Linked DNA regions of Homo sapiens. The protein of the gene in region 1 purifies or fractionates together with the protein of each later gene. This does not show direct contact. Each region holds a gene or a part of one and is shown in the gene's direction. Other genes may lie near its edges.

Region 1 (3,932 bases):
TGGTCGGCTCCCGTCCGAGCTGCTCCACCTGCGCCGCTGGCCTTTCCGCCCGCTACGCACCTGGGCCCCGAGAGGCCAGAGGGGAGTGTCCCCAGTGGCCCGGGTCCCCGAAGGTGGCCCAGCTCGGGCGCTCGCGCAGCCGGGTACTCACCTTGGGGGCGCGGCGGCAGGAGAGCGCGGGCGGAGAGGTGCGGGCGCCCTGGGACGACCAGCCGAGGACGCCTGGTGTTTGGACGGCTGCCCCCGCGCTGTCCCCCCGTGCGAGGCGTGTTGGCCTCCGTGGCCTCGCGAGGGACCGAGGGCGGCGGGTCCGAGTGCCGCCCGCCGGCCTGGGCAGTGGCGGAGCGCGGAGCTGGCGGCGCCTCCGCTGTTGTTTTTGAGCCGCGAAGCCCGAAGCAGCAGCCGTTGGGTGGGGGCGAAGGGGAGGAGGCGGGGGCCGGGAGGCGCGAGGGGGGCGGTGGGGCCCGGAGGGGGCTTCGGAGGAGCCGGGTTCTGGCGCGCGAGCCCCGACGCCCCCTCCAGCGATCGCAGGGCGGGGACGGGGGCCGAGGGGAGAATGCAGGAGAAAAGCGGGCCGGGGCGACGGGGAACGCAAAGCTTTTAAATTAGTAATCAAACGCAGTAAAACGGAGCAAAACCAGCCCGGACTCGCGTCCGAACTATCGGCGCGTGTGCCCCGAGATCCAAGGAAGTCGTGTGGAAAACCGCAGCCGCCGCCCCATCTTCGGCCCCGGCTGGGGCGGGAGCAGCAGCGCGACGCGCCGCGACGCAGGGGCAGGGTGGGGGGATAGTCACCTCGCCTCCGGGGCCACCTGGGTCCTTTTAAAGTGTCCGGGGTGCGGGCCCCGGGCGGGAGCGCCGAACACGGAATGTTTTCTTAAAGGGCCAGTTCCGAGCTGCGCTGAAAAGGGGGGGGGGGAGAGGGGGGAGAGATAAGTGAGACGAAGACCGAGAAGGCCGAGGAGAGCCCCCCAATCCCGCGCCGAGGCGGCGGCGGCGGCGGCGGCGGCGCGACGATGAGGATGATGAATACATTGCAAAGTTTTTTTGGCCCCGGCGAGGGGTGTCAGATTGAGTGCTCTGTGCGCATGTGCGAAGGTGTCCAAACTGACAATGCTGGGGAGATGAAGATAGTGTGTGGCTGCTTCTGGACTCAAGGAGGAGGAGAGAGATTCCGCGAGCCGACACCATGCGATCCAAGGCGAGGGCGAGGAAGCTAGCCAAAAGTAAGTCTCCCGCGCTCGGCCGCGCCGCGCCGCCGGGGCCCGGGCCGCCGGGCCGGGGCGCCCGGGCCAGGGGTGCGCGTCGGGGCGCGGCCGGCGCGCCTGCGGCTCCGGGCCCCCGGCTCGGCCGCGCGGCCCGGGGGGCTGCTCCGCCTCCCGCGCTCCGGGGCGACCGGGCTCGGCGCGGAGGCTCGGGGCGCCCGGGCCGCGCGCTCCCCGAAGGCGCCGGCCCCCTCCCCGCGGAACCCCCTCCCCCCCCACCAGTGTCAGGCGCTCGGGCCCGGGAACCCGAGGCGCGCGGTGGGGGCCGGGGAGGGGGGCGGAGGGGGAGGGCCGGGGGTGGAGGGGAGCGAAAAGTGAAAGTTAGCGAAAAGTTGACGAAAGGGGAGAGCAACTTTTTCCTCCCCGCTCGCTCTCTCCCTCTCTCTCTCCGAGTGGCTCTCAGTCCTGGTCAAATCATATTCCGGGCTTTTGAAATAGTGGGCGCTAGAGCACCGCCTTTGGCGTCCGCCAGCCGGGCGCAGAGGAGGGAGACCCCGAGCCGGGGAGGGGCGGAGGAGGGGGCGCGGGCCGGCGCCCACCCGGCTCCGCGGGCGCAGGGGCAGGGGTGGCGACGGCGGGACAGCCGCAGCCACTTGGGGAGCAAAATGGAGACTTTTGCCCGGGCTGGGAACTGTGGTCGTGAAGTTTATCCCCGGCTGTGCCCCGCGTGGTGGAGGGCGCTCCTCTGGGACGCCGGCAGCCTGCGCGGGCCGCCGGGGCGACAGTGCCTCCGACAGGAGGGACCCACCCGGCCACCTCCCGACCCGCCGCTGCCGCCCTCGGGCCCGCGTGGACCCCTCTGTACCCGCTTGCCTGGCACAGCCGGGCCCGGCGGGGACAGAGCTGCCCCGGCCAGGCTGCCCGGTCCTCGGTCTTACTTTCTCTTTCGCTCCGTCTCGGCCGAGCCCCGGGCTCCGCGCGCCCCGCCTGCCGCCAGCCGGTCCTTGCCGCGGGCCGGGTGCTCCAGCCACCCGCGCCCTCGCCCGCCACAGCGCCTCCGAGCAGCCCGCGCGCACCCCGCAGCCCCGGTCGCCGGCGCCATCCGCGGTGAGGCGGGCGGGCAGGTGAGGACAGGCGGAGCCGCGGCCCGGCCAGCGCGGCTCCCGCAGCCCCGCCGAAGCCCCGGCTGCAGCGAAGCGGCCAGCGCCGCGCGGAGCGGAATCGGCGCCGCCTGCTCCCGCCGCCCCCTCCTCTGCAGGCCGCCCGCCCGCCCACCCGCAGAAGAGGCGCCCGGGCCGCTCCCCTCGAGGTCCCCGCCCGACCCACGCCGTTCCGTCCGCGCCTCCGGGGCCGGGTCCCTCCAGGCCGGCCTCGCAGCTCCCGGGGCCGAGCCCCCAAACGTGAGCCGGGTGCGCGCGGGACTCGCGGCGGTTTTCCGAAGCTCCGCTCCCTCGGCTCGGGGCCCGCCCGGCTCGTCCCAACAGCTGCCCCGCGGCCGTAGGCCCCGCGCTCTGTGCACCAGGGAAAAGCAGCTCCCGAGTTTGTGCCGGACGCTCCTGCGCCCCGCCATCGGCCGTTCCCGGCCCCTGGGTGAGGCGCCCCCTTCCCGCCGCGCTCCGCTGCCGGGTGCCCTCGGCCTCGGCCTCCCGTGACCTCTGACCCCTCTTGGTGCGAACAAGACCGGGCGTTTCGCCGCCGACGCGAAGGGGCTGTCTGTGCGCGGCGTTGCGGGCCCTCCGCGCGTGGGGTGTGCGTGTGCGTGTTCGGGTTCGGTTCTGTGTGTGCACCGCGGGCCTGCTCAGAGTCGGGACCACCGGGCTGCGTGTGGGCCGCCAGGTCAGGCCCTCGCCCAGGATGGGCCCTAAGCTGGAACGAGAAAGGGGAAACCGGCCGCGCTGACGCCGGGGCCTTCGCTGCAAGCGAGAGGCGGACTCGGCGCACCCGCGCGGCCCTGGAAACTTCCGAGAGGCCCCAGCTCTCCGCCGGCTCCACCTCTGCCAGGTGGGGAAGGTGGCCCGGGACCGGGTCCGCTCAGGACCAGAAGTGGTGCCTGGCAGCCATCTGGCCAGGAGGCCGGAGAGCCGGGCCCAGCGGGAGCGCCGAGCGCTGGCTTCCTTTTCCCGAGAGTCTTTAGTGAGGAAAAACCCCATGAGAGGTGACTGCCAGGCCTCGGCCCTCTGTCCACACTTGGCCGAGCGCTGGGAACCCCTCCTTCCAGGCTCCACAGCTGGGACCGCTTGTCCCAGGCCCCCCAAGGTGGCTGAGGCAGGTTCAGGATCACACTGCCTGCCCTGAGCAAGAAGGCAGGATCCGCTGAAGAATTTCATTTCATCAGGCGATATTTTAAGCAGATGTGAACTTCCCCGGGGACCATAGTCCATTACCCGAGTCAGAGGCGGTAGGGCCAGCACTCCAGCCAGCAGGTCCTCCCCTCCCCACAATGCTGACCAGGTCAGGGGACTGTGGGGTTGGGCAGGGGCAAGGTCATGGTTACCAGGTTGGTATTCAGGCTGGGCACAGAACAGCAACCAGGCCAGTGGAGGTGACCCCATGACCCAGCATTTCGGGGGCCACCGCCGAGTGTGCATCTGGAGGTGTAATTTCGTTTGTGTTTCCCTGGAGACCCCACTCCAAGCCTCAGTTCAGGTGGGTTAGTCCTCTGGATTGGGTCTTGTGAAGGGCCAAATGGTGGCGGCTCCGGGGGTGACCCGGGCTTCCAGCTGAGCT
Region 2 (4,184 bases), on another chromosome or scaffold:
AAGACCAGCCTGGCCAACATGGTGAAATCCTGTCTCTACTAAAAATACAAAAATTAGCCAGGTGTGGTGGCAGGCGCCTGTAGTCCCAGCTACTTGGGAGTCTGAGGCATGAGAATCACTTGAACCTGGGAGGCAGAGGTTGCAGTGAGCTGAGATCACGCCACTGCACTCCAGCTTGGGAAACAGAGCAAGACTCCGTCTCAAAAAAAAAAAAGAAGACCTGCGGCAAATTACTTTTTCCTACATCCTAAGGTAATTGTGATAATTAAGTGAAGTAATATGTGTAGAGCCCTTAGAACTTTACAATATTTGTAAAACCCTTAGAAGTTATAAAAATTATTTAATATTTAAATAATTTAATGAATGTACTTAATTCATTTAGTATTATGTATAAATATAAAATTATTTTATATTTGTAAAGCCCTTAGAACCGTGCCTGGCACACAGTAAAGCTCTGTTTGCAAATAATATTTTGGCTCACCAGTAGACCACTAGTTCATACTGCTTGATGATAAGCTATTCCGCCTCATTCGTCCTTGACCCCCTAAACAGGTCTATGCCTTGGTTGCTGGGAAGGTGTGTTGGCTTTATTAACAGTAATAGTGATATGTCCTTTTACCAGGCAATTGCATGGACCAGTATTTATAGGGAAGTTTGAGCCCTGCCGCAGAGGGGTTAAGTGATGGGAAAATGCCTGCCATTTTCACATGCTGTTACAACCAGGCAGTAAAAGTCCTCAGAAGTTAAATTTTAAGTAATCAGACTGGCCACTTTCCTTCCTCTGGGAATGCAGTTGGGATGGAGGGCTCTGTCTCTAGTTGGAAAGAAGTCTGAAGTCCCCTCCTGTGTGGACACCAGACAACAGGTATCCCAGGGCCCTCTAGTTGACCAGCAATACTGTGGAATGAAGACACCCTCAAGTCACATTTGAAATCATTCCGGGTTCTTCCAGTTCAGCACCTTGACTGTTTTCCTCTTCACTGGGAAGGTGCTGGCAGCCTGACGGCCTTTTAGGCTTCTTTTAAGTTTGGGGCATCTGAAACCCGGCCAAGGTGCGGCGGGTAGTGTACTCATTCGAAGGAGAATACCCCCAATTCACTAGACGAGCCCCTAATTGGGGGTGCGGTGCCGGGCGCGCTCTTTCCTCCCCCTTTCCACCAGCACTGCCCTCAGTTCTGCTTCTAGCCACGCCCTTTCGCGTTCACGTCCAGCGCCCTGGCGGGATTGATTTGAGGACGACTGGACTGCCATTGCGCCTGCGCAGGGAGCCCAAGGCAAGAGCCGCTAGGCTGCCCTGCCCGAAGGGCTCAACTGTCAGTGAGCCTGCGCAGGAGGCCAATAGGCTGCCAATACTCCTTGGACTCCCCGCCAGGGCCCTGCTGTCAGTGCGCCTGCGCGCGGGTCCGGCGCCGAGGTTCTTGACTGCTGTGCCGGACGCCAGGTGTAGCCATGCAGCGAGCCGATTCCGAGCAGCCCTCCAAGCGTCCCCGTTGCGATGACAGCCCGAGAACCCCCTCAAACACCCCTTCCGCAGAGGCAGACTGGTCCCCGGGCCTGGAACTCCATCCCGACTACAAGACATGGGGTCCGGAGCAGGTGTGCTCCTTCCTCAGGCGCGGTGGCTTTGAAGAGCCGGTGCTGCTGAAGAACATCCGAGGTAGCGGCTCCGGAGGGGCTGAGGGGCGAAGGGCGGCGACCTGGGGCGCGGGCCAGGCGCCCTGAGGGAGGGGGCCCCACGAGAGGACCGAGGCCGAGGAGCGAGCCCTGCGGCGGGAGGCACCCGGGAGGGCGGACCTGCGCTGGGGGCGCCGAGGAAAGGAAGACCCGAGGCGGGGGAGGGAGCCCTGCGGCGGGGGTTCCCAGGAGGGCCTGCGGCATGGGGCTCCCGGGACTGACTCCCCGAGGCGGAGGAAGAAGACATGGGGTCGCCTGGGATAGGCGATTCGTAGGATGGGAGCAGGCTCCCGGGATTGAGGACCTGGGAGGGGCAGTCGTAGATTGGGATCTCACTCTCGTGGGTTTCTTCACTAACTTGCCACCCCGGCGCGGGACAAGCGAGACTCGGGTCCCTTTTTTTTAGTTAGAAGGAGATTTTTCCCCAGACCTTGGTGGGCGGCTTGCTGTCATCCAGGCTCGCGGGACCCCTCCGCGCTAACCGCAGCTCCTTGAACACTTGCCACATCAGAGGATGTTCTGGGGCTTTTAGGTTTCGGTTTCCTCCCTGAATTGAGGCTTTTCCTGAAGGGGAAGGAACTGGCTTGGTTAATCTCTGAATTCCCATCACCTTCCTTGGCATCCCAGCAGCGCCCGATAGGCGTGTGTTGACTGCACTTGCAGAACATGGTAAGGAACATGTTTTGCTCTTTAAAAGCAGGTTCCCCTCCAAAATCTGAACCTTGGGGTTGTTCAGTTGACCACTGAATCCCCAGCATGCCACAGTTTGGCCACATCCCCTGGAGAAGTGTTTAGGTTGAGTTTTAATCATATTTTACTGATTCGTATCCAAGCATCCATCCTTGTGAATTCTACTCAACTTTTTGTGGTGGGTGTGAGATTTGACTCCTGCCTTATATCCTCTAGGTGTCCAATAGGAAGGTGATTCTTTGGTGGTTGGGATTTGCAAATTTAGTAAATTTTTGCATTTGTTAGGTGGGGCCCTGTTTGGCTAGGTTGGAAACTGGGGTAGGAGGAACATTAGTGGTTCAGGACCCAAAGATAGCTTGAATGGGTATGGGAAATTGCATTTCTCCTTTTTTTTTTTTCTTCCCCCTTTTGCCCTTTCGTTTCCCTCCACTGCTGGGATGGATTATTACTTTATTTTCTTTGACTAGCAACAAGTGGAGTGAAGTAGTTCCATATTTTCTGTCTCAAAATGTGGTTGGCTCTCTGTTTCAGTGGTTTGTAGATTAACTCGTTACCCTCCAGAATGATGTGTGTTCCTTAAACCTACAACCTATTGCTATCAAAGACACTATGTGCTTTCATTTGGTAAAAACTGACCAACTGTTCCCAATTGCTCATGTCTTAGCTTCTGCTTTGTCTTGACCAAACTTTATTCGGACTTCTCTCTTCCCTTATGGGCCCCTCAACTCTTGCTTACCCCCAGATCTGACCAGGCAGGCACTAAAGCAGTGGAATATGCCTCCCTCTGGTCAGTTTCTTTTGAGAACCGGCTGACCACAGTAGGATGCTGTCCTGTTGGGCTACACTGCTCATTTTCCCTTGCTCGTCCAGGTTCCTATCCAAAGATTCTGCTTATTTCTGCTTGCCCGTCCTTTATCATATAAAAGAAGACCCTTTTTCTGTTGGATTCTTTTTTTTTTTTTTTTTTTTTTTTGAGACAGAGTCTCGCTCTGTCGCCAGGCTGGAGTGCAGTGGCGCCATCTCGGCCCAGTGCAACCTCTAACTGCCTGGTTCAAGCTATTCTCCTGCCTCAGCCTCCCGAGTAGCTGGGATTACAGGCATGTGCCACCACGCCCAGCTAATTTTTTTGTATTTTTAGTAGAGATGGGGTTTCACCATGTTGGCCAGGATGGTCTCCATCTCCTGAACTCGTGATCCGCCTGCCTCAGCCTCCCAAAGTGCTGGGATTACAGGCGTGAGCCACCGCGCCCGGCCTCATTTTTTTTTTTTTTTTAATTAGAGACAGGGTTTTGCCATGTTGGCCAGGCTGGTCTCAAACTCTTGGCTTCGAGTGACCATCCACCCACCTCGGCCTCCTAAAGTGCTGGGATTACAAGTGTGAGCCACCATGCCCAACCTCTGTTTGGTTCTTGGGCCTCTGTTTGATTATTTTTTAAAATTTATTTTATTATTTTATTTTTTTTCTGAGATGGAGTCTCGCTCTGTCACGCAGGCTGAAGTGCACCGGCACAATCTCAGCTCACTGCAACCTCTGCCTCTCGGGTTCAAGTGGTTCTCCTGCCTCAGCCTCCCTAGTTGCTGGGATTACAGGTGCACGCCACCACGCCTGGCTAATTTTGTGTTTTTAGTAAAGACAGGGTTTCACCATGTTGGCCAGGCTGGTCTCCAACTCCTGTCCTCAGGTGATGCATCCGCCTCTGCCTCCCAAAGTGCTGGGATTACAGGCGTGAGCCACCGCGCCCGGCCGGCCTATGTGTTTGATTCCTGAGCCTCTTGCAGATATCTGATATTGGAGCTTTCTCCCTGTAGAAATAGTCTTT
Region 3 (3,500 bases), on another chromosome or scaffold:
GCCTCAGTGTCCCGAGTAGCTGGGATTGCAGGCGTGCACCACCATGCCTGGCTAATTTTTGTATTTTTAGTAGAGATGGGGTTTCACCATGTTGGCCAGGCTGGTCTTGAACTCCTGACCTCAAGTGATCCACCTGCCTTGGCCTCCCAAAGTGCTGGGATTATAGGCGTGAGCCACTGCTCCCGGCCTGTTAACCCTTTTTTACTACAGAGAACTTGGAACCTGTTTCATCACTTTTCTGCTTCTTCCAGGTTCTTGATACATATTTGCCAGACTTCAAGATTTCAGAAAAGGGGTGAAAGAGAAGATTGCAACTTTGAGTCAGACCTGTAGGCCTGATAGACTGATTAAACCACAGGTAAGGCAGTGACCATAGGAATAAGGAACATTAATATATCAGCTTCATAAGTGTTTAAATGACTAATGTAATTTTATAAAGTAACACATATTTTGGAAGGAAATTTATTTATTATGAAAAGCAAAAAGAAAATAAAATCACCCACTATCCCACCTCTCAGATAAACCATGGTTAGCCTTTTGATAGATTTCTTTATAATTTTTTTCTATGTCTATATAGTCATTCCTTGATATCCATGGGGAATTGGTTCTAAGACCTTCCCAGGATATCAAAATTCTCATATGCGGCCGGTTACTGTGGCTTATGTCTGTAATCCCAGCACTTTGGGAGGCTGAGGCAGGCGGATCACCTGAGGTCAAGAGTTTGAAACCGGCTGGCCAACATGGCAAAACCCCATCTCTACTAAAAATACAAAAATTAGCTGGGTGTGGTGGTGCGCATCTGTAATCTCAGCTACTTGGGAGACTGAGGCAGGAGAATCCCTTGAACCCGGGAGGCAGAGGCTGCAAGTGAGCCAAGATCTCATCACTGCACTCCAGCCAGCAAGACTCTGTCTCAAAACAAACAAAACAAAATTCTCAGATGCTCAAGCCCTGGTATAAAATGATGTGTAGTATTTGCATATAGCTTATGTACATACTCCCACATACTTTAAATTATCTCTAGATTACTTATAATACTTAATACAATGTAAATGCTATGTAAATAGTTGTTATACTGTATTGTTTAGGGAATAATGACAAGAAAAAAAGTCTAGGCTGGGTACAGTGGCTCAGGCCTGTAATCCCACCACTTTGGGAGACTTAAATAGGAGGATTGCTTGAGGCCAGGAGTTCGCGACCAGCCTGGGCAACATAGTGGCACCGTGTCTCTACAAAAAAAATAAAACATAAAAAAATTTAACCGGGCGTGGTGGCACCTACTTGTAGTCCCAGCTACTTGGGGGGCCAAGGTGAAGGGTCACTTAAGCCAAGGAGTTTGAGGTTACGGTGAGCTGAGGGCACCACTGCACTCCAACCTGGGTGGCAGAAAGAGACCCTGTCTCAAAAAAAGTCTGTACATATGCAGTACAGATGCAGTTTTTTTTTTTTTTTTTGAGGCAGAGTTTCGCTCTTGTTGCCCAGGCTGGAGTGCAATGGTGCAATCTCAGCTTACCGTAACCTCCGCCTCCCAGGTTCAGGCGATTCTCCTGTCTCAGCCTCCCGAGTAGCTGGGACTACAGGCATGCCACACCTGGCTAATTTTGTATTTTTAACAGAGATGGGGTTTCTCCATGTTGGTCAGGCTGGTCTCGAACTCCTGACTTCAGGTGATCTGCCCGCCTCTGCCTCCCAAAGTGCTAGGATTACAGGCGTGAGCCACCGTGCCTGGCCTTGCAGTTTTTTTTCCCCCAAATATTTTTGATCTGCAGTTGATTGAATCCACAGATATGGAACTCATAGATACGGACAGCCAACTGTATTTCATTTTTAAAAAAATCATACACTAAAAACTTTTGTTAATTTTTTTAACTTTTTTTTTTTTTTTTTTTTGAGTCGGAGTCTCACTCTGTCGCCCGGGTTGGAGTGCAATGGCGCGATCTCTGGCTCAATGCAACCTCCGCCTCCCAGGTTCAAGCAATTCTCCTGCCTCAGCCTCCCGAGTAGCTGGGATTACAGGCACCCGCAACCACACCCGGCTATTTTTGTGTTTTTAGTAGAGACGGTTTCACCATATTGGCCAGGCTGGTCTCAAACTCCTGACCTCATGATCTGCCCACCTCGGCCTCCCAAAGTGCTGGGATTGAGGCTTGAGCCACCACGCCCGGCCTCTAATTTTTTTAACTTAATAATCAGGCTATGAATATTTTCCCGTGTCATTAATAAATTTTCTTCTCTTTTCTTTTTTGTTTTTTTTGAGACAGGGTCTTGCTCTGTCACCCAGGCTGGAGTGTGCACTTCAGTGGCGTGATCACAGCTCACTGCAGCCTCCATCTCCTGGGCTCAAGTGATCTTCCTGCCTTAGCCTCTCGAGTTGCTGAAACTACAGGTGCATGCCACTGTACCTGGCCAAATTTTTCTACAACATAATTTTAATGGCTATATGGTATTCCATTATTTGGTTCTTTATATTACTTTTACCAGTGAAATTGCTGGTCTAAAAGAATGCGTATTTTTGGCCGGGCGCGGTGGCTCACGCCTGTAATCCCAGCACTCTGAGGAGGCTGAGGCGGGCAGATCACCTGAGGTCAGGAGTTCAAGACCAGCCTGGCTAACATGGTGAAACCCTGTCTCTACTAAAAATACACAAATTAGCCAGGCATGATGACGGGTGCCTGTAATCCCACTTACTCGGGAGGCTGAGGTGGAAGAATCACTTGAACCTGGGAGGTGGAGGTTGCAGTGAGCCGAGATCGCGCCATTGCACTACTGCAGCCTAGGCAACAGCGAGACTCCATCTCAAAAAACAAACAAACAAAACATATTTTTAAAAACTTTTGACATGTAACACCAAATTGCCTTGTAGGAAGATTATGCTGATTTACCTAAAACAGTATATATTCACATAGGCATAAATGTATAACTTAAAATAGGTAATATATTTGCATGGTGCAAAAATCAAAAGAATATAAAAAGCTTCATGGTTTAAAATCTTCCTCCAGCCTTGTTACTTCTTCACTCTCACCATCCATAGGTAAACACTTTTTTTTTTTTTTTTTTGGAGACAGAGTCTCACTCTGTCAACCAGGCTGGAATACAGTGGCACAATCTCAGCTTACTGCAACCTCTGCCTCCCTGGTTCAAGTGATTCTCCTGCCTCAGCCTCCCGAGTAGCTAGGATTACAGGCACGCCACCACACCTGGCTAATTTTTGTATTTTTATTAGAGATGGGGTTTTGCCATATTGGCCAGGCTGGTCTTGAACTCCTGACCTCAGGTGATCCACCTGCCTTGGCCTCCCAGAGTGCTGGGATTACAGGCATGAGCCATCTAATAAACACTTTTATTAGGTTCTTGGGTTTGAGTGTTTGTGTGTTATTCCCCAAACCAGATACCTTTTGAAGGGAATAAATCTCTATAAAATGAAATGACTGCTATTTGACTAGGATTGTAATCTGCAGCCACACTGTCAACCATTACAAACTTTTTCAGCTTCATACTAT
Region 4 (3,500 bases), on another chromosome or scaffold:
GCTCCTGTTGCTGTCTCTGTCAGCTGTCTGTGGCTGCATAAAAAGTCACACCAGCACATGCTGTCTTAGGACAGTGGTGACATGTGCCTTCTTCCAGTGCAGTGGGCAGATGGGACCATTATTCTGTTGGCCTCTCCTGGCCTGGTCAGCTGGTGCACCATGCCCCATGCGTGTCAGAGGCGTTGTCTGGGACACTGGCCTCTTTCCACATCGACTTTCACCCTGGGCTCCCCCACGTGAGGGCAGTGGCATCCCAGAACAGCAGGAGCAGGAGCGTCAAGGCCTCTGAAGGCCCAGCCTCAGAACGACCAACGTCCTCCACATCCTGTGGGCCAGAGCCAGCCCCAGGCAGCCCTGATTCAAGGGGACGAATAGCCCCCGCCTCCGAGTGACAGAAGTAGCAAAACCGTGGCCTTTAACCACACAGTCTGCCCGCCACAGGCGCATCTCTGGTCCTCACATGTGCAGAATGCACTCACCCACCTCAGGCCCCCAGCCCAGGCCCCCACCTGAGGTCCAAGGCCTCGTCCAGATCGCGTTGAGTTGTGGCCAGTCCCCAGGAGTGGGTCATCAGGGGCAGCTCCAGGGTCCTCGTGCCTGCCCCACACACCCCCACAGGGGCGAGGCTGAGGCAGTGACCACAGCAGACGCACCTTTCAAACGTGCAGGGAAAGGTGGCTGACGGGAGGCGTGAGCAGCCATCCCAGCTTCTGCTCGTCGTGGGAAGCAGAAGGGAGTCGCCCGGCAAGGCCAAGGCTCAGAGGTCTTCCTCTGTCACTTCCACCACACGCAGTGCTGGGAAAGCAGCCACCGACGTGAGGAGACCAAGGCTGCCTGGGAGGAAGGACCAGCAGAACCGCGTGGCTGCGGGGACAAGGGCAGATTTGGGGGACAGCCATGGCACCACAGCCCCTCCGTGGAGTGGCCGGGAGAGCAGGGCCTCTGGACAGGGCTGGGCCACCACACAGCCAGTCCATTTAGGATAACAGAGTCTTTCTCGGTGCCAGACCTCAGCAGCCTCTGCAAATGGTCCCCCTGACATATTTTACAGGGGCAGATTCTCTGTCGTTAAGAAATGTGATCAGAAAGGAACCAAGCGAGCAGTGGCCACTAAGTTTGTGAACAAGAAGTTGATGAAGCGCGACCAGGTCACCCATGAGCTTGGCATCCTGCAGAGCCTCCAGCACCCCCTGCTTGTCGGCCTCCTCGACACCTTTGAGACCCCCACCAGCTACATCCTGGTCTTAGAAATGTGCGTACACACCTGGCCTTCCCTCTGCCCAGCCCTCTGCCTCCACCTCAGGGGGTTTTGTTGTTCCTGTTTGTTCTCTAAGAAGGATAGAAATTGGGTTTGTAGAATTTACAGAACTAAAAAACATCTTCACTGTCAGAGCCCGCAGTTTTCAAGCCTTCCAGTAATGGCAGAAAGCAGTGTGGTCTTCCACAGGGCGGTTGCCTGATGAAGGGCAGTCACTGCTGGGATGGAACACCTGATATGCTCAGCCAACCCGGAGATGCACCCCCCCCACCCCTTTTCTGAAGGTCCCATGAGGCCAGGCTGTCTCTGGTGCTGAACCCAAGCCCCCATTAGTGGTTGGAGGCTGACCTGATACCCCAAGCCTGTGCAGGGCCAGCTCACCCCGGATCAGCGGGGTGCCCCTCAGGCCTCCTGCCAAGTGAAGGCCAGTTGGATGGGAGGGTAAGACGCACCTCCCCGCAGAATGTCCTCCGAAGAGGGGGCGCGGGCACACCAACCAGAGCTGCCCCTCTGGTCCCCGTTGTACTTACTGGGCTCCTGTGTAAGATCAGAAAATAATTTAGTCACGTCAAGAAAAGAGTTTGAAACCTGTGTCCCACAGGAGCGGTTCTCATCTAGGGGTGGGTTCTCGTGGAAATGTCAGGAGAGCTCAGGCTGGGGGTGAGTCCGGCAGGGAGCGGCCGGAGGCCAGGGATGCCACCCAACCTCCTGCAAGGCAGGGACAACCCCCATGGATTCATCCACCCCAAACATCTGTGCATTTAGCTTTGAAAAATGTCGATTCCTCCTTTTTAGGGGGAGTCATTTTATACATTTACTTGCATTTACAGCTGCTTTTCCATGGGGAAGGGTAAAACCTTTTGTCACCATTTGGGAAGTTTGCATAGCTTCTTCAGTGGGAAGGATAGGATTAGCAGGGCGCCCCCATGGGGTCATGTAGGGGCAGACTCAAGCTCGGGGCCCCTCGCCGGCAGGAACTCCCTCCAGGCCCTGTACCTGATGTTGTAGTTATTGTCATTTTTTTCTTAAAGAAACTATAAATGCCTCCCCATACCCTTCCTAGGGCAAGGCTGCCACAGCGTCCCACATGGCCCCACATGCAGCCTTACCAGCTTCCTCGGGCCGCCCATGTGCCATGGGTGACAGTGGGTGTCTCAGGAAGGCCTCCCACCCATGGCTGCACAGCTAGAACCTCCCCCAGCACATGGGGACGTGCTTCCAGCCCGTCTTTCAAGAATAGAAAACACATCTCATGGCAGAAGGGCAGACGGTGGGGCGCAGTGAGGCTGAGCAGTGTGTATGGAGAGGAGGTCCACTGGCCTCGCCTGGCCTCAGTCCCCGCCCTCCCTCTCATCGGCTCATTTCTCACCCTGGTGTCCTTAAAAGTCACACTGGCTTTGGAGGGTTGTCGTGGGGCCGAGATGGGGCGATGTGTGTGGAAGAGCCGAGCCGACATCCAAGCCGAGGCCTGGCCTGGGAGCCTCAGGACCCGGGAGGTCTCCTTTCTGGCTCCAGACGCTGGTGACCAATGGCCACTGCTCACCTTCCCTGGGGAGTTTTAACAAAACTGTGGCTTGAGTGCTTGTCACAAATCTCCTAAAGGCCTTCGTTTCTGGACTGACATTTCAGTGCTTTCAGCTGTCATTTCTGGGAAACAAAATGGTTTGGCCTCACCATCCTGTTAATAGGATCCGTTTTCATGACAGATTACTCCTGTTCTCACCGGCGACTCCCCATTGCTAGACAGGCAGCTGATCTTCCTACAGATTTCTGTTTTGCAAAGAGAGCAGCATAGGCCGGTGTTGAGAGAGGTGGGGGCCAGACCACCTCAGTCCAATCCTGGCTTCTCCACTCTGGAGCTGTGGGACCTTGGGAACGTTTCATGCTTTCTCTGTCCTGAGTTTCCTCGTGTATCAAATGGGTACACTAAGGCCCACTTCACAGAGAGTCATAAGGATTAAATGAGTTGTTAGAAGGCATTGAGCCCCTGGCACTTGGCAGTGCTGGGTAAGTGTTTTTTTAGTATGAACAGTAGTTTCAGAGGAGGAAGTCTTCTGAGTCCAACACTGAGCACTCAGTGTGTCACCTCCTGCCCAGCCTGTGGTTACATGATCTCGGTGAGTCTTCCCGTGGCCCATTCTACAGGTGAGGAAACTACAGCTCCGAGAAGCATGAGCTACTTGCCTTCCTTCAGCAGATACCGCAGGATGCCTGCTGCACCTGGCACTGCCGGCAGCCGGGC

What was found. The genes of interacting proteins can lie anywhere in the genome.
Region 2: the proteins of PRDM16 (region 1) and SAMHD1 purify together in Homo sapiens (affinity purification with mass spectrometry, with the first as the bait; one large-scale study listed by BioGRID). This does not show direct contact.
Region 3: the proteins of PRDM16 (region 1) and TPX2 purify together in Homo sapiens (affinity purification with mass spectrometry, with the first as the bait; one large-scale study listed by BioGRID). This does not show direct contact.
Region 4: the proteins of PRDM16 (region 1) and TRIO purify together in Homo sapiens (affinity purification with mass spectrometry, with the first as the bait; one large-scale study listed by BioGRID). This does not show direct contact.

Annotation. Positions count from the first base shown.
Region 1 is NC_000001.11:3,068,071-3,072,002, forward strand, and holds the start of PRDM16 (histone-lysine N-methyltransferase PRDM16), read left to right. Parts: upstream 1-1,132; 5' UTR 1,133-1,189; coding exon 1,190-1,226; intron 1,227-2,143; coding exon of another isoform or gene 2,144-3,793; exon of another isoform or gene 3,794-3,932. Other genes in the region: translation initiation factor IF-2, read right to left, coding at 878-901, 2,144-3,793. UniProt on the Homo sapiens protein: Binds DNA and functions as a transcriptional regulator. Displays histone methyltransferase activity and monomethylates 'Lys-9' of histone H3 (H3K9me1) in vitro.
Region 2 is NC_000020.11:36,948,909-36,953,092, reverse strand, and holds the start of SAMHD1 (deoxynucleoside triphosphate triphosphohydrolase SAMHD1), read left to right. Parts: upstream 1-1,384; 5' UTR 1,385-1,449; coding exon 1,450-1,657; intron 1,658-4,184.
Region 3 is NC_000020.11:31,742,290-31,745,789, forward strand, and holds part of TPX2 (targeting protein for Xklp2), read left to right. Parts: intron 1-251; 5' UTR 252-358; intron 359-3,500. UniProt on the Homo sapiens protein: Spindle assembly factor required for normal assembly of mitotic spindles. Required for normal assembly of microtubules during apoptosis. Required for chromatin and/or kinetochore dependent microtubule nucleation.
Region 4 is NC_000005.10:14,503,342-14,506,841, forward strand, and holds part of TRIO (triple functional domain protein), read left to right. Parts: intron 1-1,051; coding exon 1,052-1,252; intron 1,253-3,500. UniProt on the Homo sapiens protein: Guanine nucleotide exchange factor (GEF) for RHOA and RAC1 GTPases. Involved in coordinating actin remodeling, which is necessary for cell migration and growth. Plays a key role in the regulation of neurite outgrowth and lamellipodia formation.